Linked DNA regions of Homo sapiens. The protein of the gene in region 1 interacts with the protein of each later gene in a pairwise test. Each region holds a gene or a part of one and is shown in the gene's direction. Other genes may lie near its edges. The genes, in order: BUB1B-PAK6 and RHOV.

Evidence for each region.
Region 2: the proteins of BUB1B-PAK6 (region 1) and RHOV interact in binary tests that used the Homo sapiens proteins (3 or more experiments, as listed by UniProt).

The regions. Positions count from the first base shown.
Region 1 is NC_000015.10:40,212,464-40,220,427, forward strand, and holds the start of BUB1B-PAK6 (serine/threonine-protein kinase PAK 6), read left to right. Parts: upstream 1-4,964; 5' UTR 4,965-5,032; coding exon of another isoform or gene 5,033-5,204; intron 5,205-5,992; coding exon of another isoform or gene 5,993-6,099; intron 6,100-7,964. Other genes in the region: BUB1B (mitotic checkpoint serine/threonine-protein kinase BUB1 beta), read left to right, coding at 36-185, 869-1,011, 5,033-5,204, 5,993-6,099. UniProt on the Homo sapiens protein: Serine/threonine protein kinase that plays a role in the regulation of gene transcription. The kinase activity is induced by various effectors including AR or MAP2K6/MAPKK6.
Region 2 is NC_000015.10:40,867,176-40,882,217, reverse strand, and holds RHOV (rho-related GTP-binding protein RhoV), read left to right. Parts: upstream 1-7,983; 5' UTR 7,984-8,078; coding exon 8,079-8,286; intron 8,287-8,294; exon of another isoform or gene 8,295-8,475; coding exon 8,476-8,534; intron 8,535-8,716; coding exon 8,717-9,160; 3' UTR 9,161-10,004; downstream 10,005-15,042. UniProt on the Homo sapiens protein: Plays a role in the control of the actin cytoskeleton via activation of the JNK pathway.

The DNA.
Region 1 (7,964 bases):
AACTGAACTTATTTTTAAAATACAATGTCTTACAGGTATCTTCTCAACCTGTCCCATGGGACTTTTATATCAACCTCAAGTTAAAGGAACGTTTAAATGAAGATTTTGATCATTTTTGCAGCTGTTATCAATATCAAGATGGCTGTATTGTTTGGCACCAATATATAAACTGCTTCACCCTTCAGGTCTGTAATACTAAAAACATAATTTAAAGTCCTGAAGTAGAGAGATTTGTGCTCCATTTAGCAAAGGAATTTAGTACAAAATTCCTGTCAATCTTCTAGAAATAGACCAATTCAAGTATAAGTTAGAAGCATTGATAATTTTCTCGTTATTTTGACCAAAGATCTCTTTGGTATTTTTTTAACTTTTTTTGGTCCGTTGTCAAGCATAAATAAAAGTAGAATTGTACAATGAACTCCCATGAACTAGTCATCTATGATAATCTTAGCTCATGGTCACTCTTGTTTTAGCTATACTACCCCCACTGGATAGTTTTTAAAACCCAGACACAATATGTCATTTTACTCTTCGGTTTGTTCTTAAGAAGGTTTGCTATGGATTTTGATGATAATATGAATTCTCAAAAATGGTTGGAATGAGGGTATTTTAAATCCATTTATTAAGTACCTATTTTGGGCCAGGCTCATGCTTGATGCCCTTCATCATTATGTCATTAAATCCTTACAAACAATCTTATGGGAGATGGCAGTGTTATTAAAACTGGGACATAGACTCAGTCTACAGAGGTGCCTACGTTCCAGTAGAGAACAAGGAAGACTACAAACCATCAGTTTTCAAGGTATTGAGTATAACTACGATCTGCCAAACTTGAGAAATAGTGAGTTTTCTGTCCTTCAATTTCCAGGATCTTCTCCAACACAGTGAATATATTACCCATGAAATAACAGTGTTGATTATTTATAACCTTTTGACAATAGTGGAGATGCTACACAAAGCAGAAATAGTCCATGGTGACTTGAGTCCAAGGTGTCTGATTCTCAGAAACAGGTTGGTCCTTTTCATTCTTATAATTCTGCCAGCTGTCTCTTAAAACATGGATAGTTGCCACTTTTTTTTTTCTTTTTTGAGGCGAGGGTCTCACTCTGTCACCTAGGTTGGAGTACAGTGGCATGATCTTGGCTCACTGCAGCCTCCATCTCCCAGGTTCAAACGATTCTCCCATCTTAACCTTGCTAGTAGCTGGGACCACAGGCGCGCACCACCACACCTGGCTAATTTTTTGTATTTTTTGGTAGAGATGAGGTTTCACCATGTTGCCCAGGCTGGTCTCAAACTCCTGGCCTCAAGTGATCTGCCCACCTCAGCCTCCCAAAGTGCTGGGATTATAGGCGTGAGCCACTGCACCCGGCCAAGTTGCCAATTTTTAAAGCCTTTTGATAAATGCCATATCGAGGAACATATTATGTTAAGAGAGTATTTACCTAAAAGTCAAAAATCATTAAGAATAGTTTAAAATAATTCAAAGAAATAAACACATTGAGGAAATAGATTAAATCAGATAAAAGAATTAATCACTGAGTATTGTGATGATATATGTCAAGATGAGATATAAAATATGAATATTTTGAGGAATATAAAGTGGATTGTTTAGTCATTCTTTGAGTGGGACCAGTGCCACTCTAGCGAGGATGCCAGCAAAATCAAGGCACTACTCAGTTTCATAGACCAAAGCTTAAGTCAGGCCTAACTGACCTGTTAGCCAAGAGAAGTGGGTAAAACCAGAGTTCAAATACAAACTATGCCAAGGAATGGGGTTTAGTGTTCAAATTAAACCCAGTGTGTCCATCAGGTTCAAGGGGTGAGCACAGAGCAGGAAATAATAAATGAATACTAAGGACTGAGAAAATATAGATCACGTTCAGGCATTAACTAGGCAAAAACAGTCCAACATTTTTGCTTTGTGAAAAGTACTAGAGGACTACTATATTCTTTTAGTGATCATTGGTGTTATAGTATTTGAGTAAAAGCAGCCTGGTTTAAAGATGCTGTGTCTGCCCAACCCTGTGTCTTGGGTGAGGTGTTAACTTTGTTTCTGAGGCCACTGGTATACACTAATAGCTGGACTTACTCTTTACATTTCTTCTGAATACTTAATCTATCAGAAGAGATTGAATTAGACTCTAAATTATAGTTAACGTGGAAATTAAAAGAACCCTCAATGTGTTCCTGTGATTGTAACCAAAAGAACCAGAGAATCCCACCTTCTCCCCTGAGATAGCAGAGTCAAAGGCTTTCCCAGACATAATGTAGCAGCATTTCTCATCCAGGGCACCATAGGTATTTTGGGTGAGACAATTCTTTGTGCAGGTGTGTTCCAAGCAATGCAGGATGTTTTATATTCCTATTCCCCCCCACCCACCCAATTAAGTGCAAGTAACAATCCCCTAAGCCGTTGTGACCACCAAAAATCCCCCCAAATTTCCAAGTATGAGAACCCCTGGTATATTTTCACTCTACTTAACATTAAAATGACAGTGCTGAAATTCCCAGGGCTATGGAAATTGGAAGCAGAGGTTTTTTCTAAGCCTTTTAGAATTGGCCATTTGTGGTCTAATGAAGTACGATAACCCTTCTCTCAGCCACTAGAGGCTCTAGGAAAGTCCATAGTATTAAAGAGGCATTGCTTTTTACTTTGTCACTGCTTATCAAATTTAATCAGAAATTTCACATAGATTCATAAGGAATTAAAAGCCAGAAAGGGGCCGAGCACAGTGGCTCATGCCTATAATCAATCCCAGCACTTTTGGAGGCTGAGGCGGGCAGATCACCTGAGGTTGGGAGTTCAAGACCAGCCTGACCAACATGGAGAAACCCCATCCTACTAAAAATACAAAATTAGCCAGGTATGGTGGTGCATGCCTGTAATCCCAGCTACTTGGGAGGCTGAGGAAGGAGAATTGCTTGAACTCAGGAGGCAGAGGTTGTGGTGAACTGAGATCGCACCATTGTACTCCAGTCTGGGCAACAAGAGCAAAATTCTGTCTCAAAAAAAAAGCCAGAGGCCGGGCGCAGTAGCTCACGCCTGTAATCCCAGCATTTTGGGAGGCCGAGGCGGGCGGATCACGAGGTCAGGAGATCAAGACCATCCTGGCTAACACAGTGAAACCCTGTCTCTACTAAAAATACAACAAGATAGCCAGCCGTGGTGGCAGGTGCCTGTAGTCCCAGCTACTCAGGAGGCTGAGGCAGGAGAATGGCGTGAACCCGGGAGGCAGAGCTTGCAGTGAGCCAAGATCATGCCACTGCACTCCAGCCTGGGTGACAGAGCGAGACTCCATCTCAAAACAAAACAACAACAAAAGCCAGAAAGGGCTGGATGCAGTGGTTCACATCTGCAATCCCAGCACTTTGGGAGGCAGAGGCAGGAGGATCTCTTGAGGCCAGGAGTTCAAGACCAGCCTGGTCAACATAGCAAGACCCTGTCTCTACAAAAATAAAATAAAAGCCAGAAAGAACCTTTTGAAATTGCTTAGTTTAGTTGCTTACTTTAGTTTCTGCATATTTTTTGTGAGGAAAATGAGATCCAAAAAAATGGAATGTCCTACCCAAAGTAACAGTGAGTGAGTAGCTGATTAGAGGGCTAGGACACCTTCATGCATGCTTCTTTTTATTAATCTATGAGACATTTTTTCCCTATGCCTCCAAAGTTATATAAATATTTTACAATTACACTGGGCATGGTGACTCACATCTGTAATCCCAGCACTTTGGGAGACCAAGGCAGAGGATCACTTGAGCCTAGGAGTTCAAGACCAGTCTGGGCAATATAATGAGACCTCATCTCTACAAAAAATTAAGAAATTAGCCAGGCATGGTGGCACACACCAGTAGTCCCAGCTACTCGGGAGGCTGAGATGGGAGGATCGCTTGAACCTAGGAGGCAGAGACTGCACTGAGCTGAGATCGCACCACTGTACTCCAGCCTCAGTGACAAGAGTGTAGACCTTGTCTAAGAAACCAAACAAAACACACACATGCACACACTTTACATATATATATAAAATACATATGTATATTTTATATATATCAGAATCCACGATCCCTATAACTATATATATACTATATATATATATATATATATATATTTTTTTTTTTTTTTAATTATAGTATAGTTTTATGGTGGCCAAAAAAGGTTGGCTCTTGTGCCAAGGAAAAATGAGAGCAATTATCAATTTTAAAGTAAAATACATAGATCATTCTGTGCCGTGGAGGTATGTAATTGGAGTAGTTAAAGACTGTATTTAGGAATATTGCACCAATATCAGGAGTTTGAGGGAATTAATTGAGAAAAACAGACAAAAGGAACACATGAAAACCCACTCTTTTCATTTATAAACAGTTCCTATGTCCCCTTGGAGAATAGCATTATTGCATAGGATAGATAAACCCAAGGAAAACAAAATTAATTGATAATTAATTAGTATTATAAAGATTTTTTTAGTAAATAACTGGAATTACAAGTAAGAGTAAGATAAAATATGGTGTTTTACAAGAAATTTTACAATACAGATAGGACTTTATAAAACAGACTTGCATTGTTTTCCATTAAACTCTGGAAGGAAGAATCTAAACAATACTTGGAAAGCCTATCTGGAATAGTAAACAAGAAAGGCTATGACACCTATAAAATTTTAATTTCCTCCATCATAATTCCTGTCAGTGTATAAATCATTGCAATTGTATGTGTTAATGTGTACAGTACAGGGAAGAAGCCTGTGCTCTGCTTCCATACTTACTTTATATAATATGGAAGCTTGATAAATGTTTAATGGTGGCCATGCACCGTGATTGAAATATACTTTGTGTCACCAAAGTGGTGACATTCCTTCCGCATTGGGTGGACACTGCCACTGCTCTGTCTTACAGGTGCATTTTCAAAATTAACCACTGGAGGGAGTTGTTGGCATAGCTAAGATGTACCCAAGGTACCTTTTTTTTTTAAAGACCAGCTATGCAGCTTCTTTCATGGCCTATTTTTATTATCTCCTTCTCTTAAATCTGGGCTCAGAATCCACGATCCCTATGATTGTAACAAGAACAATCAAGCTTTGAAGATAGTGGACTTTTCCTACAGTGTTGACCTTAGGGTGCAGCTGGATGTTTTTACCCTCAGCGGCTTTCGGACTGTACAGATCCTGGAAGGACAAAAGATCCTGGCTAACTGTTCTTCTCCCTACCAGGTAAGTGTAAAACAAGCCTGAGCAAATATGGAGAGGGTTTCTTAATCTCTTTATTATCTAGATAAGCTATAAAAGCTACTGTTTACTGATACCGACTCCTAGAATAGATGACCTAGTTTTCAAATATCACCAAGTCAAGTAAAATGTAACATTTTTGTGTTACAGCATTGAAGAATATACACATACATGTGCAAACACATGACTAACTCTGTAACCGAGTGCCAGGGCCACTCCTACTGCCTACCACCCATGTAATCTTTTATAAGTCATTTTCTGTGATCTTCTCTGTAAAATAGGGATAACAGTCTCTGCTATGTGTTTATCAGAATTGTTATGAGGAGTAAATGAAGTAATGTATATAAAAAGAACATTAGCACAAATGTAAAGTCTTTTGTATGGTGGCATTATATGCAGAAATTCCTTCTAACTCAGCTTTAGACATAAGACATTTGCTGATTGAATATGTAGCACAAACCTGAACTAATCATGTGGACCCCATTTAGATCACAGCTGGAGTTCATGCAAACTCAGTAGGTCTACAAATTTGAATGTGATAGTCCAAATATTTCATCTTTTGTTCTTAAGGATAATTCCTAGAATTGGCTCTATTGATCACTTCTTTGGAGAGCTTCTCCCTTTACTGTAAGGGTGAGGAACAGTCTACTAAAATGTATGTCATAAAATAAACTTAGTTAAGCACTGTAATACCTTTCAACTTCCTACCGAAATAAGCTGCCATGGTAGAGGCAGAGAATTATTTTAGCTGATGGTGCTTTTTGTGATTTCAGGTAGACCTGTTTGGTATAGCAGATTTAGCACATTTACTATTGTTCAAGGAACACCTACAGGTCTTCTGGGATGGGTCCTTCTGGAAACTTAGCCAAAATATTTCTGAGTAAGTATTGATGAATGTCAGGGTCTCTGCCTGTCCCAATAATTTTCTGTTTCTCTTGGGTGCTATCTCTGCTTTGGCAGCCTTAGTTTTTTAATCCAAATGCCATGGTTCCAGTAGTTTCAGCCAGTTTTCATTAGAGTATCAGCAGAGCAGCTAGTGCAGGAAAAAGGAACTGCTTACTAAAAATAAGATTCAAAACTATTCAGACTTCAGGACATCATTCTGAATCTAGCTGTATCTTCCAGACTACAGCTATAGTATGGAAGCTTCCCTGTTTAGATATGTGAAAAGAAGCATTTCATGAGAATAATTTTCTAACTAATTGGTGTTAGCCTTAAATTCCTTTTTCTTTATTTATTTATTTTTTGAGACGGAGTCTCGCTCTGTTGCCCAGGCTGGAGTGCAGTGGCATGATCTCGGCTCACTGCAACCTCTGCCTCCCAGGTTCAAGTGATTCTCCTGCTTCAGCCTCCTGAGTAGCTGGGATTACAGGCGTGCGCCACCATGCCTGGCTCATTTTTGTATTTTTAGTAGAGATGCGGTTTCACTACGTTGGCCAGGCTGATCTCGAACTCCTGACCTTGTGATCCGCCCGCCTCGGCCTCCCAAAGTGCTAGGATTACAGGTGTGAGCCACCGTGTCTGGCCTAAATTCCTTTTTAATAGCAATTATTACCAAAAGTTAATAAGCATCCTTTGAAAAGACTTACATTTCTAAACTATATGCTAATTTTAGGCTATTTTTTATTTAATAAGTGGATAGAACCAAACCAGATAACTGACTCTCCTGGAGAAGAAGTAAGTGGTCTCTTAATAAGCACTGCTTGGTCTCAGAACCTTAGTACTCCCTCAAGCCTGCTCATAAAACTTACTAAGTCAGCCGGGCATGGTGGCTCACACCTGTAATCACAGCACTTTGGGAGGCCGAGGCAGATTACCTGAGGTCAGGAGTTTGAGAGCAGCCTGGGCAACATGGCGAAACCTTGTCTCTACTCAAAATACAAGAAAATTAGCTGGGTGTGGTGGCACATGCCTGTAATCCTAGCTACTTGGGAAGCTGAGGCACGGGAATCACTTGAACCTGGGAGGCAGAGGTTGCAGTGAGCTGAGATCGCGCCACTGCACTCCACCCAGGGCAACAGAGTGAGACTCCGTCTCAAAAAAAACTAAGTATCTACGTTCCACTTTAGCTTATCTTAGCAAATAAGTTCCCAGCCTGTCACCTATTGTTATATTCTTTGGTTAAAAAAAAAAATGAGTGTTGAAGATTTAATGCCCCTTCTCTATTTTCATCTTTGAATAATTGAATTGTACTTTTCTCTTCATTTAATTCAGAACTTGGCCAGTGTTGTCTCTTACATGAACTTTTAAAAATAGGCTTGAAATACAATGTAAGACATATAGGATGGATATAGGCATGTCCACTTGGCTATGGTCCAGGCAGGTCTGGCTAACACAAGCAGAAACAAGTGGGGTCAGTTGGGGTTTCCTAACAGCCCTGCCTTATCTAATAAGGGAAGTTTCTCTGATCAAAAGAAAATAATAAGAAGCAAAGGTACAAACATATTAAGCAGTAGTTAGTTTAGTCAAGCTTACGATTATCAGAGAATTGTAAAGAAGATCCACTACTGGGGTAGGAGAAAGGAGCTGTAGCCTTTTTAATGACCTAGACTCTAGGAAAGTTAGAGGAAATAAAATTCCTTTTTCTTCTATTTGTAGAAGAAAAGTGCTATGTCTTAGTACACAGAGGAAATTTATAGATTTAGATGAGAGATCTTCTTTCCCTTTATGTGCATTGTATCTTGGCTTTTCCCACTATGGTAGCCCTTTTTTGTAGTTCTTCCCTGGGCTTTCAAAGGACTATTT
Region 2 (15,042 bases), 660 kb from region 1:
TGAACCCGAAGGTGGAGGTTGCAGCAAGCCGAGATTGTGCCACTGCACTCCAGCCTGGGCGACAGAGCTAGACTCCGTCTCAAAATAATAATAATAATAAATAAATAAATTAATTAATTAAATAGAGCCAGCGTGGTGGCTCACGCCTGTAATCCCAGCACTTTGGGAGGCCGAGGCAGGCAGATCACTTGAGCTCAGGAGGTCGAGACCAGCCTGGCCAACATGGTGAAACCGCCTCTCTACTAAAAATACAAAAATTAACCAGGAGTGGTGGTGCACACCTGTAATCCCAGTTATTCAGGAGGCTGAGGCAGGAGAATCAATTGAACTCAGGAGGCAGAGGTTGCAGGGAGCTGAGATTGCACCATTGCACTCCAGCGTGGGTGACAGAGCCAGACTCTCTCAAAAATAAAAATAAAATAAAAATAAGAGAAAATAAGGAAGTTAGTAGGGGAGTTTTTTAGGTAAAGGTTTTAGGTGGCAACTCTTGCAGGCATTTAAAAAGCTAGGGCTTGGGTGCAAGATCTGAGCGGAAAGAGAGGTTGGAAGGGGGCAGTAGCGGTGGGATCAGCTGGATGGCGAGGTGGAGAGAAATGAAGGGAGAAGCGGAGGCCAAGTCTGGGTGCGAGGGAGCAGGGAAGACAGGACAGAAGTCCAGGAGCCAGCCTGAGCCCAAGGGTGGTCTAGAGGGTGTGGGGACTGAGGAAATGGACTTGAAGGGTTGACCAGCAGCACCATGGGGCAAACTCAGCCCAGCTGGGTAAATTTGCCACAAACTCCCTCCAAGGACACAAGCACATGGAAATAGAGAAAAATCTGTGTTGCTGGGTGTCGTGGCTCACCCCTATAATCCCAGGACTTTGGGAGGCTGAGGCAGGAGGATTGCTTGAGCCCAGGAGTTTGAGAACAACCTGGGAAACATAGGGTGACCCAGTATCTACAAAAAAATTAAAAAGTTAGACAGGTGTGGTAGCATGCACCTGTGGTGCCACATACTGAGGAAGCTGAAGCAGGAGGATCACTTGAGCTTGGGAGGTCGAGGCTACAGTGAGCCCTGATCGCACAACTGTACTCCAGCCTGGGTGACACAGCAAGACTCTGTCTCCACAAAGAAAATAAATAAAATGCATAAAATAAAGAAAAAGGAAGAGAAAAACCTATGGTGGCCCAATTTCCACTGAAAGCTCAGAAAGTGGGTAGTCAAGTTATTGTATTATTATTATTGTATCATATAACTATATTATAATATATAATTATATATTAAGTTATATATAATATATAATTATTATCAGTATGTTGGTAAGCAAGTGTTAAATATAAAATTCTTTTTCTTGAATTCTGTTTTTATTTCAAAGCTTTCTGACCTGCCCATCTCAGTCTCTGAGCTCATCCTAAGCAGCAGGCCTGATTTTGGGGGTCTTGGACTGGAGTATGCAGAAGAAACAGAAAAAGACAATGAGAGTGCATTCACTCAAAAACAACCTCTCTCTGGATGGAGCCCTTGGAATAACTTTTCCCCACCACTGGTGTTCTTTCGTTTTTGTTTTTAATTTTTTTGAGATGGAGTCTCGCTCTGTCTCCTAGGCTGGAGTGCAGTGGCGTGATCTCAGCTCACTGTAACCTCCGCCTCCCAGGTTCAAGCAATTCTCCCTACATCAGCTGCCGGAGTAGCTGGGATTACAGGTGCATGCAACCATGCCCAGCTAATTTTTGTGTTTTTAGTAGAGACAGGGTTTCACCATGTTGGCCAGGCTGCTCTTGAACTCCTGACTTCAGGTGATCTGCCTGCCTCAGCCTCCCAAAGTGCTGGGATTACAGACGTGAGCCACCGTGCCTGGCCGTGGTGTTCTTTTGTTAATCCCTTATTTGCCAGCGGAATAATTGTGGTGGTAGGGTAGGGGGTTGGTTTCTTTTGGTTTATTCTTGTCCAGGTTTTGCTATAGGCATTCCAGTGTTTTCAGTAAACTTAAGATATGGAATTAACAAAAATACCTAATAAAACTTGACAACACTGGCTGGGCACAGTGGCTCATGCCTGTAATCCCAGCACTTTGGGAGGCCGAGGCAGGTGGATCACCTGAGGTCAGCAGTTCGAGACCAGCCTGATCAACATGGTGAAACCTCATCTCTACTAAAAATACAAAAAGTAGCTGGGCGTGGTGGTCCACTCCTGTAGTCCTAGCTACTTGGGAGGCTGAGGCAGGAGAATCGCTTGAACTAGGAGGCAGAGGTTGTAGTGAGCCAAGATCTTGCCACTGCACTGTGGCCTGGCCGACAGAGCCAGACTCTATCTTAAAAAAAAAAAAAACTTGACCACGCCTGAGGGTGGACCTGTGGTTGGCTTGTTCATTCTGGAACAGACTGCCACTTACTAGTTTCTTTCATCTTGGGGCAGGTCCCCTATACTCACTGATAAAATGGGAATAGACACACGCACGCACACACACACACACAGCCACACCTTCTCAGACACACCCCTCTCCTAAGCCATGTCACTTGGTTCTTATGAGACAGGGCAGACTGCAGCACTTTTACAAGTCTAAAGCCATATACAGCTGTGATGGACATTTTGGAGGCAAGATATTACTGCCGTGATTCAATGTCAGGGCTATGGTTGAGTTTTTTAGTTTTTGGTTTTTTTTAAGTAAACTATTTTTTTTTTGCCTTTTTTTGCGGTGGGGGGATAGGGGGTGCAGAATCTCACTCTGTCACACAGGCTGGAGTGCAGTGGCTCACTGCAGCCTCAACCTCACAGGCTCAGGTGATCCTCCCACCTCAGCCTCCTGAGTAGCTGGGACTTACAGGTGCATGCCACCATGCCCCATTAATTTTTTTTTTTTTTTTTGAGACTGGGTTTTGCCATGTTGTCCAGGCTGGTCTTGAAATCCTGGGTTCAAGCAATCCTCCTGCCTTGGCCTCTCAAAGTGCTGAGATTGAAGGAATGAGCCACCAGGCCCGGCATGTCTCACTTATTTATGTATTTAATTATTTATTTATATTGGTATAGACTTGTATATTTCCTGCCCCAGTCCTATAATCTGCTATTTCTCCATGGAGAATGTCAGAGCCAAGTTTTAATCCTAGCAAATGTGTGTCTAGCTGGAAGTTGGGGCAGAAGATCTGGCAGGCAGCAGGAATAAGACCCAGCCTACCCTTAGGAGGGGAGTTTCCCAGCAGTAGCAGCCAGAATTGCAAACTTCCCCAGCAAGTCCTTCTCTGAGAAACAGGTGACTCATCAGCACCTTAAGTTGTTTCCTCCCTCCCCCTCTTGCTGACAAAACTGCCCCTAAACCAGCTCAGACAGAGGGACCTAGGTTGGAAAGTGTCCCCACCTAAGCGGCCAGAAAATAATGACCTGTCTCAGGCCACATCAGGGCTTTTACCTGTGCCCAAGCAGACATCTCCCCCAATTTGTGTATTTACACCCCTCCTGCCTGCAGAAAGGATGAAACAGGATTACCCTCAAATTTACAGCTATAATTAAACTATTATTAAAATCCAGGTAAAAAAACAAGAGCACTGCAAAGAAGAGCGTGTGTGTGTGTGTGTGTGTGTGTGTGTGTGTGTGTGTGTGTGCGCGCGTGTGTAGTAATTCTGTCCCAGACACCTGGGCTGGGGCAGCTTCCCTGGGATCCCTGAATCACAGATTGCTAGCACCAGAAAGGCTTTCAGAGATAAACATGCTTCACCTGTCATTTTATAGGACTGAGACAGATGAAGTGATTTGGTAGGCATCACACAGCTAGTGAGCTGAAGAACTGGGAACACTGGGACAGGTCTCCTGATGTCCAGGTCTTTTAAAATGCCACTCCTGGCCGGGCGCGGTGGCTCACGCCTGTAATCCCAGCACTTTGGGAGGCCGAGGCGGGTGGATCATGAGGTCAGGAGATCGAGACCATCCTGGCTAACAAGGTGAATCCCCGTCTCTACTAAAAATACAAAAAAAAAATTAGCCGGGCGCGGTGGCGGGCGCCTGTAGTCCCAGCTACTCGGGAGGCTGAGGCAGGAGAATGGCGTGAACCCGGGAAGCGGAGCTTGCAGTGAGCCGAGATTGCGTCACTGCAGTCCGCAGTCCGGCCTGGGTGACAGAGCGAGACTCCGTCTCAAAAAAAAAAAAAAAAAAAAAATGCCACTCCTTTTCCAGGAGAGCAAATACAACAGCTTTTGGGCTTTCTAGAGGAATACAAAGGCAGGACAACAGGTAAGGCCTCTTTCACTTGCTAGATGAATAAACTTATGTGGATGTGTCTGAGAAGTTTTTGAGACTTGGGGCTACAATTAGGGATTATTAGCATCCCCAGACATTCAGAGGTATGGCATGTAGGATGAAGACATTGGCATGTAGAAGTGGTTACAGGGGCTCCTACGATTTCCCCATCCCCATAGTCGAGATTTTAATGATTAAGTCATCTTTCTAGCTGTAGTCCTCTCCTTTGGGCTCAAAAAGAGAAAACAAGAAATCTCAGCACTTTGGGAGGCCAAGGAAGGTGGATTGCTTAAGCTCAGGAGTTCAAGACCAGCCAGGCCAAAATGGTGAAACCCTGTCTCTACCAAAAATATAAAAATTAGCCAGGCATGGTGTCATGCACCTGTAGTCCCAGCTACTTGGGAGGCTGAGGCAGGAGAATCGCTTGAACCTGGGAGGTGAAGGTTGCAGTGAGCTGAGGTTGAATCTGTTGATCTGGGCCACAGAGCGAGACCCTGGCAAAAAAAAAAAAAAGAAAAAGAAAAGAAAAATCAGGGAACCTGTCACTTTTTCTAAGAGATGTAAAGATTTGGTTTGGATTTATGGCTTTTTTTTTTTAGACTGAGTCTCGCTCTATCACCCAGGCTGGAGTGCAGTGGCGCGATCTCGGCTCATTTGCAACCTCTGCCTCCCAGGTTCAAGCAATTCTTGTGCCTCAGCCTCCCAAGTAGCTGGGATTACAGGCGCCACCACCACGCCCGGCTAATTTTTGTATTTTTAGTAGAGACGGGGTTTCACCATGTTGGCCAGGCTGGTCTCGAACTCCTGACCTCAAGTGATCCACCCACCTCAGCCTCCCAAAGTGCTGGGATTACAGGTGTGAGCCACCGCACCTGGACGGATTTATGGCTTTTATACTACCAGCTCTTGGAGAAATAGAATTATCTCTTTTAATATTCACTGCCCCTCCCCCTCCCAACATTCTCCTTTCCCAAAACTCGTGAATGGCTGACTCCCTGAAGGTGACGGTGTTTTCTGTGATCTTTGCATAGGCTGAGATGAAAGGGTCAGAGATCAGAGAAAGGATTCTGGGCCTGGTGTCACTTGGTGTGGTTGCAATAAAGAGACAAAATTAGCATCAGGCTACTCTTCACTTGCTCTCCAGGTGACCTTCCCAGGGCTACCTGGGAGATATTGTCTCAGTCTGCAAACTCCTTCTAGGGCAAGGGCAGTGGGTGGCCCAGAACAGCATCTGCAGATAGGTAATTATTATGTGCTTTTGATGATGATGAGATAATATTAGGTATTTGGAGATTTATAAAATATTCAAATGGAAATTGTCCTTGAAGATCCTCCCCAGCTAGCTTCTCAGCACCCTGAGTTCCTTTAGCTGAGGGGAGTGAAAGTGTTCACAGCTTGCCTTCAGGCTGAGTCTAGAGAAAGCTCTCCTCTGAAAAGGAGTACAGTACATTCCTGCCTGCTGTATTCACACTTGTGTTTCTCTGCCTCTCTCATGATCTGTATACAGCTGAGCCTTGAACAACATGGGTGTGAACTGTACAGGTCCATTTTAGGCAGAATTTTTTCAATAAAAGTTACACTGAGGGCCGTGTGTGGTGGGTCATGCCTTTAATCCCAGCACTTTGGGAGGCTGAGGCCTGAGGATCACTTGAAGCCAGGAGTTGAAGACCAGCCTGGGCAAAAAAGCAAGACTGTCTCTACAAAAAAAAAAAATTAAAAAAATGTAGCCTGGCCTGGGGGTGCATGCCTGTAATCCCAGCTACTTGGAAGGCTGGGGCGGGATTGCTTGAGGCCAGGAGTTTGGACGCTGCAGTGAGCTATGCTCGCGTCATTGCACTCCAGACTGTGCAACAGATCAAGACCACATCTCTAAAAATAGATAAAAGTTATACCAAGTGTGCCTGCCTTTCCTGCCTCCCCTTCCACCTTCTCCACCTCTGCCACCCCTGACGCAGCAAGACCAACTCCTTTTCCTCCTTCTCCTCAGCCTACCCAACTGGAGACCACAAGGGTGCAGACCTTTACGATGATTCTAACTTTCTGATACAGGTCAGAAGAAAAAAGTTTGAAAATATGATAAGCCTCCTGGGCGTGGTGGCTCATACCTGTAATCCTAGCACTTTGGGAGGCCGAGGCAGATGGATCACCTGAGGTCAAGAGTTCAAGACCAGCCTGGCCAACATGGTGAAACCTCGTCTCCACTAAAAATACAAAAATTAGCTGGGATTACAGGTGTGAGCCACCTCGCCCGGCCTTTTTTATTTTTTTATTTTTATTTTTTTTTTGAGATGGCGTCTTGCTGCGTCTCCCAGATTGGAGTACAGTGGCGCAATCTCGGCCCACTCAAGCTCCGCCTCCTGGGTTCACGCCATTCTCCTGCCTCAGCCTCCCGAGTAGCTGGGACTACAGGCGCCCACCACCATGCCCGGCTAATTTTCTGTATTTTTAGTAGAGACGGGGTTTCACCGTGTTAGCCAGGATGGTCTGGATCTCCCGACCTCGTGATGTGATCTGCCCGCCTCAGCCTCCCAAAATGCTGGGATTACAGGTGTGAGCCACTGCGCCCAGCCTATTTTTTATTTATTTATTTATTTATTTTTGAGACAAAGTCTGGCTCTGTTGCCCAGGCTGGAGTGCAATGGCATGATCTCAGCTCACTGCAACCTCCACCTCCCAGGTTCAAGCCATCCTCCCACCTCAGCCTCCGAGTAGCTGGGATTACAGATGCACACCACCATGCTTGGCTACTTTTTTTGGGGGGTTTTTTGTTTTTGTTTTTTAAGAGAGAGTCTTGCTCTGTCACCCAGGCTGGAGTGGAGTGGCCCAATCTTGGCTCACTGCAACCTCCACCTGCCAGGTCCAAGTGATTCTCCTGCCTCAGCCTCCTGAGTAGCTAGGATTACTGGCACCCGCCACCACACCTGGCTAATTTTTTGTATTTTTAATAGAGACGGGGTTTCACCATGTTGGCCAGGCTGGTCTCGAACTCCTGACCTCAGGTGATCCACCCACCTCGGCCTCCCAAAGTGCTGGGATTACAGGCGTGAGCCACGGAGCCCAGCAACAGCAGGCTATTAATAGTTAAATTTTGGGGTAGTCAAAAGTTATATAGGGATTTTCGGCTGACTGCACAGGGTTTCTCGCCCATAATTCCCGCTTTGTTCAGGGGTCAACAGGTTTTTTGTTTGTTTGTTTGTTTTTAGGATCTGTCACACATGCTGAAGTGCAATGGCACTATTATAGCTCACTGTAACCTTGAACTCCTGGGGTCAAGTGATCCTCCTGGCTTAGCCTCCCAGAACGCTGGAATTACAGGCATGAGCCACTGCTCTCAGCCTCAATATTTAAAAAAGTAATTCTTTCATTAATAAAATTATCCCAACTTTTTAATACTCATGCAAACATATGCATAGAGTTGTTTCTTGTAAGTTGAACAAGGTTTAATTTGCACACTTGTTTAACCTGAACATACTGTATTATATGTTCTGCAACTTGCTTCTTCCTCCTAACAATAAATCATGGATGTCTATCTCTTCTTGGTATTCTCATTTGACGATTCTTTGTCCTTGTACCTGCGTGACTCTTGGAGCTCCAGCTTTCTGCCTGCCTTTCCTCCTCCCGGGGTTTTCCTCCTCCTCGCCTGGCCTCGCAGGGTGCCTGGCCGCGGGAGATCTTCGCCGATGGGTGGGGTCCGGGGCCGCCTGAAACATGTAGATGAGATGGGCGGGGCCCTACACAAACCCGCTGGTAGCGCTGGGCCGACTCGCCCAGCCTGGACCCATTCAGTCAGAGGCAGCCAGCGGGACCTGCTTCACCGAGCGCAGCGAAGCCGAGACCCGGGCTGGCCCCTCTGCTGCCCCCGGAGCGGGCCATGCCGCCGCGGGAGCTGAGCGAGGCCGAGCCGCCCCCGCTCCGGGCCCCGACCCCTCCCCCGCGGCGGCGTAGCGCGCCCCCAGAGCTGGGCATCAAGTGCGTGCTGGTGGGCGACGGCGCCGTGGGCAAGAGCAGCCTCATCGTCAGCTACACCTGCAATGGGTACCCCGCGCGCTACCGGCCCACTGCGCTGGACACCTTCTCTGGTACGTACGTTCAATCGCCCGTGCGGCCGCGTGGCTGCGGCGGGGCTGTGCACCGGGGAGCTGGGGCGGGCGTCTCGGCGGGAGGGCGCAGAGGACCCCGGGGAGGAGACTGGAGCAGGCCCCGAGGTGGCGCTGGTGCGGCCCAGGACGCTCTTCCTAACTCAGGCTCTCCCCGCCCCGCCCCTGCAGTGCAAGTCCTGGTGGATGGAGCTCCGGTGCGCATTGAGCTCTGGGACACAGCGGGACAGGTGAGAAGCTGGGCGCGGCCTCTACTGGTCTGCGGGGAGATGGGCTGGAGGCTGGGAGGACCCCATATGGAGCAAATGGAGAAAGCCTTGGGCTCTTGGAGTCTCAGGTTTCCAGCCCCGGGTGAGAAATGGATTCCATGTGTCGGGGGGCTAATCCTTACCACCTGGCCTTCCCACCCCAGGAGGATTTTGACCGACTTCGTTCCCTTTGCTACCCGGATACCGATGTCTTCCTGGCGTGCTTCAGCGTGGTGCAGCCCAGCTCCTTTCAAAACATCACAGAGAAATGGCTGCCCGAGATCCGCACGCACAACCCCCAGGCGCCTGTGCTGCTGGTGGGCACCCAGGCCGACCTGAGGGACGATGTCAACGTACTAATTCAGCTGGACCAGGGGGGCCGGGAGGGCCCCGTGCCCCAACCCCAGGCTCAGGGTCTGGCCGAGAAGATCCGAGCCTGCTGCTACCTTGAGTGCTCAGCCTTGACGCAGAAGAACTTGAAGGAAGTATTTGACTCGGCTATTCTCAGTGCCATTGAGCACAAAGCCCGGCTGGAGAAGAAACTGAATGCCAAAGGTGTGCGCACCCTCTCCCGCTGCCGCTGGAAGAAGTTCTTCTGCTTCGTTTGAGCAGCTATGGCTGCATAGCAAGTAGTAGGCAGGAGGCCAAAGACTTCTGAGACCTGGGGCACCCGGGCCTTTGCGGCAGCTACTGGCAGGGCCTGGCCACCTCATAGGACTCAGTTCCCTTCTGAACACTCGGGGGACATGGGCCTCTAACTGCCCACTCTGATATGCCTGGGTGAGCCTAGGAGGGAAGGCTCTGATTTGGATTTCTCCAGTCAAAGCTCACAGAAAAAAACCTGGCACTTTGATTTTCATGGGATGGTCCTAACAGGGTCAGTCACCTCCGAGCAGTTTGGGAACCCAGTTTCTTGTCCTGGGCCCTCAGGTCAGCCTGGCTGAATTAGGACCCTTCCTTGGCACAGGGGTGAGAAAGAGCTTGGGGAACGCTTGGCATTATGGAGGGCTGGAAGGGGCTCAACCCCGATTTGGAGAGAAGTTTGGGATGGAGTGGGCGAGAGATTGAGAGAGCGAGCAGGAAAAGAGGTCTTGGAGCCTGGGACTGATGGTGGATAAGGCCTGGAAAGAAGATGACGAGGAGGAGGAGAGAGGGAAGTGGGGTGGATGAGGAGCAGGCTGACACCTGGGCTGCCCTCAATCCCCAAGGCCAGGGAGGGCGGGGCTGGCCCCTGGGAAGAACTGGGTCTCTGGGCTCCCTAGGCACTGCCCAAACTGGCTGAGCCAGGAGTGGGGCAGGAAGTGAGAGTCAAGGCCCAGCAAAAGGAGGGGGAGGAGCTGCAAATTAGAACCTGAAGGAGGACCGGGTTGGGGATCATCCCTTTCCTCAAGGTCACACAGCCTAGAAGCTAGAGCAGTGCAGAGTCTGCAAATAAAACCTTAAGTCTGTGAAGGCGTGCGTTGTCTCTGTCATTTCCTGGAGCCCACTCCTCCCTCAGAACCCTCCTCAAGGCCTAACTGCCTGGCTAGAGACAGATTGGGGACCAAAGGACTGAGGCTAGATTGAAAGGTGGGGGCTGGACTGGGGGTGGGGGCAGTGTAATGGGAACTGGACTGTGGGGGTAGGTGTGGAGCTCCCCGCTTGGGGCTCAGCTGGTTCCCAGGAGAGCTAGCGTGGGAAGCGGCCTGGAAACGGGTTTCCCCAGGTGTCAGCGCCAGAGCTGGTTTCCCATGACCTCACCTGGTGGGTGGAGCCCCTCCCCTCCACCCCTCCTTTCTAGAGCACCATGCTCAGCACTGGAGCTCAAGGTCAGTCCCCAGCCTTCTAACTTTTCTGCTCTGTTCCTTCTGGCAGTTCACAGGGCCCTGGGGCTCAGGTTAGGGGACCATCCCCCCCTCCGACCTCTATTCACAGCCTGAACATAAAGGGAACCCATACAGCCTAAACCTCAATCACTGGCCAAAGTTCTTAGACTTGGGTTGGACCCAGTCTTCAGCCTTGGCACCTAAGGAGCTAGTGAAGGTCAGGGTGCTGCTTGTGAACAATTTAAATAGAGGTTTATCCCCAAGTATCCTGTGCAAGAGCGAGTTCATTGGGAGAGGACTTGGAGAGGAGCAGGGATCTGGAGAACATTCCCTCATGTTGGAGCTTGAAGGGACTTTGAAGGACACCCAGGGAGAAAATGAAACAAAACAAAACTTACTTTACCATAAGGAGACTGAGGACCAGACAGAAAAGGTAATAGCTTAAATGATATGTATCACCCAGTGACTGTAAGAGCACTTTGCAAACTCTAGAGTTGGATACAGGGGTATGTGTTACTCTGGGAGAGGAATTTCTTTCTTTCTTTTTCTTTTGAGGTAGAGTCTCGCTCTTTCACCCAGGCTGGAGTGCAGTGGCGTGATCTTGGCTCAGTGCAACCTCTGCCTCTTGGGTTCAAGCGAGTCTCCTCCTTCAGCCTCCTGAGTAGCTGGGATTACAGGTGTGCGCCACCATGCCTGGCTCATTTTTGTATTTTTAGTAGAGATGGGGTTTCACCATGTTGGTCAGGCTGGTCTCGAACTCCTGACCTTGTGATCTGCCTGCCTCAGCCTCCCAAAGTTCTGGGATTACAGGTGTGAGCCACTGGGCTCAGCTGGGAGAGGAATTTCTGAGGCACACCTGGCACACCTGCTAGGCAGCTGCTGGGTCAGATGAGCACTCATGCCCTGGCCCAGCCCACCTCTGAGCCCATCTCCCTCTGCAGGAAGCTACAGCTGTGTGTGTGTGTCTGTGTGTGTGTGTGTGTGTATGTCTGTCTGTCTGTCTGTCTCTGTCTGTGTCTGTGTGTGTGAAAGAGCATGGCTGAGGGACAGAAATCCCAGCCAAGTGAAACTTCAGATAATCCCCAAGTTTAGTTTTAGCCAAGACTGTCCACTTCCTGCCCCACCAGGGCCTGTCCCCAGAGCTCCAGCCAACTGGAGCTCCTTCTGTTCCCTTTACCCTTCAGGTGGAGGTGCTGAGGGTCTCACACCCCAGCAGCATGGCCTGTTGTTACCTCAACCCAGCCTGACACACTCCCCTCTGGGGCAGAAACCTGGGTTCAAGTTCAGACTCTGACACCAACCATGACCTTAGGCAAATAATTTCCCTTCTCTATGCCTCAGTCTTCATTTGAAAAATGAAGGACTCAGGACTCAGACTGGGTTTGAGGTTCTTAAACTTGTTCTGAGGGGCCTTGGACGTGCCTTGGGGTGGGGATCATCCCCCACAAGGGGGTTATCCTTGTACCCGCCCCCACCTCCAACTTCTTCCCTAATTCTCTCTTGTGGTACTAGTATATCCATGTCACCCAAATTGAAACCTCGGTCACCATGCCTCCTCTCTTGCTGGGTCTCCAAGTCTGGTCAGGACCTCTGTCACCCACACCCCAAGGTCCCTGCCACTGCAGCTCCCCACTCCAATCTGTCCCGTGCTGCTGTGTTCACTCTGGCATCCCCCAACTCAAGGCTCAAGACTGTTACTGGCTCTCACTGTTGATGATGAACTTCCAGCTCCTCATTTCAGCATTCAAGGCCCTCTCAAATCTGACAGCACCCTGGACCAGGCCAGCTCGCTCTGGTGATCCCCAGCTATTTCCGACTTCCTGACTCCCAGTCTTGGCTTGTGCCAGATCCCCTAGTTTGGAAAGAGCTCCCTGTCACCTCCCAGATGCCCCATTTCTCCTCATGATAACCAGCTTTCAATACCTCCCTCCTCCAGAACAGATGCTTACCTGTATCAGTGTCTTCACTGCTCCCTTGGCACACTGAGGACACTGGGCGTTCTGCGACTGACTCAGCCTGCATCTTCCCAGCTAAATGAAGAGAGAGAGAGAGCCACGTTTAAGTTCCTTTTGCTCCCACAAGGTCTGGGGCTCAGGCAATGTTTGCTGCTGACCCTGAAATGCTTAGGAATAAAAAGCCAGCCAGTGAGCCCTGGAGAGGCTGGGAGGATTAAGTTTAGCTCCAGATTTGGAGCTTGAAGACTGAGGCCTAATGTCAACAGCTTGCTGGAAAGGACCTCTAAGGCTCTGGCCCCAAGCCTGTGCAGGACAAGAGGGATTCGCTTCTGCTTCCGAATCCACTGGTTCTCTTTGGTTCTGTCTCTTTCTCTAGAATATGGTACCTACTTTTCTGGGGTAGTTTTTTTGTTTTTATCTCTCTGTCTGTTTCCTTGGCCTCTTTTCCCTTTTCTCTGCTCTTTTAAATTATATTTAAAGGAATATTTATTATATGAATTGGATAAAATTATATGTTTCTTACATATACATTCTTACATATGTCCTTATCAATATAAATTGCTTTTAATGTCTGTGTAACCCTTAGTTGATTTTTTTCAATTTTTTCTTTCTTTCTGTTTTTTTTTTTTTTTTTTTTTGAGACGGAGTCTCGCTCTGTGGCCCAGGCTGGAGTGCAGTGGCGCCATCTCGGCTCACTGCAAGCTCCACCTCCCGGGTTCACGCCATTCTCCTGCCTCAGCCTCCCGAGTAGCTGGGACTACAGGTGCCCACCACCACGCCTGGCTAATTTTTTGTATTTTTAGTAGAGACGGGGTTTCACCATGTTAGCCAGGATGGTCTTGATCTCCCGATCTCGTGATCTGCCCACCTCAGCCTCCCTAAGTGCTGGGATTACAGGCATGAGCCACTGCACCCAGCTCTCTTTTTTTTTTGGAGATGGAGTCTCACTCTGTCACCCAGGCTGGAGTACAGTGGCACAATCTTGGCTCACTGCAGCCTCCGCCTCCTGGGTTCAAGCAATTCTCCTGCCTCAGCCTCCCAAGTACCTTGGATTACAGGCATCCACCACCACATCCAGCTAATTTTTTTTTTTTTTTTTTGAGACAGAGTCTCACTCTGTCGCCCAGGCTGGAGTACAGTGGCATGATCTCGGCTCACTGCAACCTCCGCCTCCCAGGTTCAAGTGAGTCTCCTACCTCAGCCTCCCAAGTAGCTGGGATTACAGGCGTGCACCACCAGGCCCAGCTCATTTTTGTATTTTTAGTAGAGACAGAGTTTCACCACGTTGGCCAGGCTGATCTCGAACTCCTGACCTCAAGTGATCCACCCACTTCACCTTCCCAAAGTGCTGGGATTACAGGTGTGAGCAATGGCACCCAGCCGTTTTCCATTTTTTTGAGGCAGGGTCTTGCACTGTCATCCAGGCTAGAGTGCAGTGGTGTGATCATGGCTCACTGCAGCCTTGAACTCCTAGGCTCAAGCAATGCTTCTGTCTCAGTCTCCCAAGTAGCTAGAACTATAGATGTGCACTACCATTAGGTACACACCTAATTCAACAATTTTTTTTTTGTAGGGATGGGGTGTAGTTATGTTGTTCAGATTAGTCTCTAATTCCTGAGCTCAGGTGATCCTTCTGCTTTGGCCTCCCAAATTGCTGGGATTACAGGTGTGAGCCACCTCACCTGGCTAGATTTTTTAAAAATAATGTCTTTTTTTCCATAATAAATACTTATAAAAATTAGAAAATCCAAAGATTTAGAAGATTAAAAAATCTTAAAAAGTATTCTAGGCCGGGTGCAGTGGCTTATGCCTGTAATCCCAGCACTTTGGGAGGCCGAGGCAGGCAGATCACGAGGTCAGGAGATCGAGACCAGCCTGGCCAACATGGTGAAACCTCGTCTTTACTGAAAATACAAAAATTAGCTGGGCATGGTGGCGTGTGCCTGTTATCCCAGCTACTTGGGAGGCTGAGGCAGGAGAATCGCTTGAACCCAGGAGGCGGAGGTTGCAGTGAGCCGAGGTCACGCCACTGCACTCCAGCCTGGCTACAGAGCAAGACTGCCTCAAAGAAAAAAAAAAGGTATTCTAAAGTCTTAACTCCCAAAGACAATCAATAATAATATTTGGGTGTAATTCCTTCCAATCTTTTCTTCTAAGCATCTTTTTTTTTTTTTTTTGAGACAGTCTTGCTCTGTCACCCAGGCTGGTGTGCAATGGCGCGATCTCAGCTCACCGCAACCTCTGCCTCCCTGGTTCACGTGATTCTCCTGCCTCAGCCTCTTGAGTACCTGGGACTACAGGCATGCGGCACCATGTCCAGCTAATTTTTGTATTTTTAGTAGAGATGGGGATTCACCATGTTGGGCAGACTGGTCTCGAACTCCTGACCTCAGATGATCCACCCGTCTCGGCCTCCCAAAGTGCTGGGATTACAGGTGTAGGCCATCGCTCCTGGCCCTATGCATATTTCTTTACACACTTTTTGTGATTATGCTGTGTAGACAATTTTCTTTAATTTAAAAACTTAACTGTCTTTTCATGTTATAAACTGTGACCATGAGGCTGTAACTGTATGTGTATGTTTCCTTACTGTTCCACTCTGACCTGAATACCTTTAAGTAGATCCCCATCTGGGGGCATGTAGGTTATTTACCTTTAAGCTTTTTTTTCTCTATTATAAATGACACTACATCTACAACTGATTGTTTTATCCACCATGGCTCATTGACT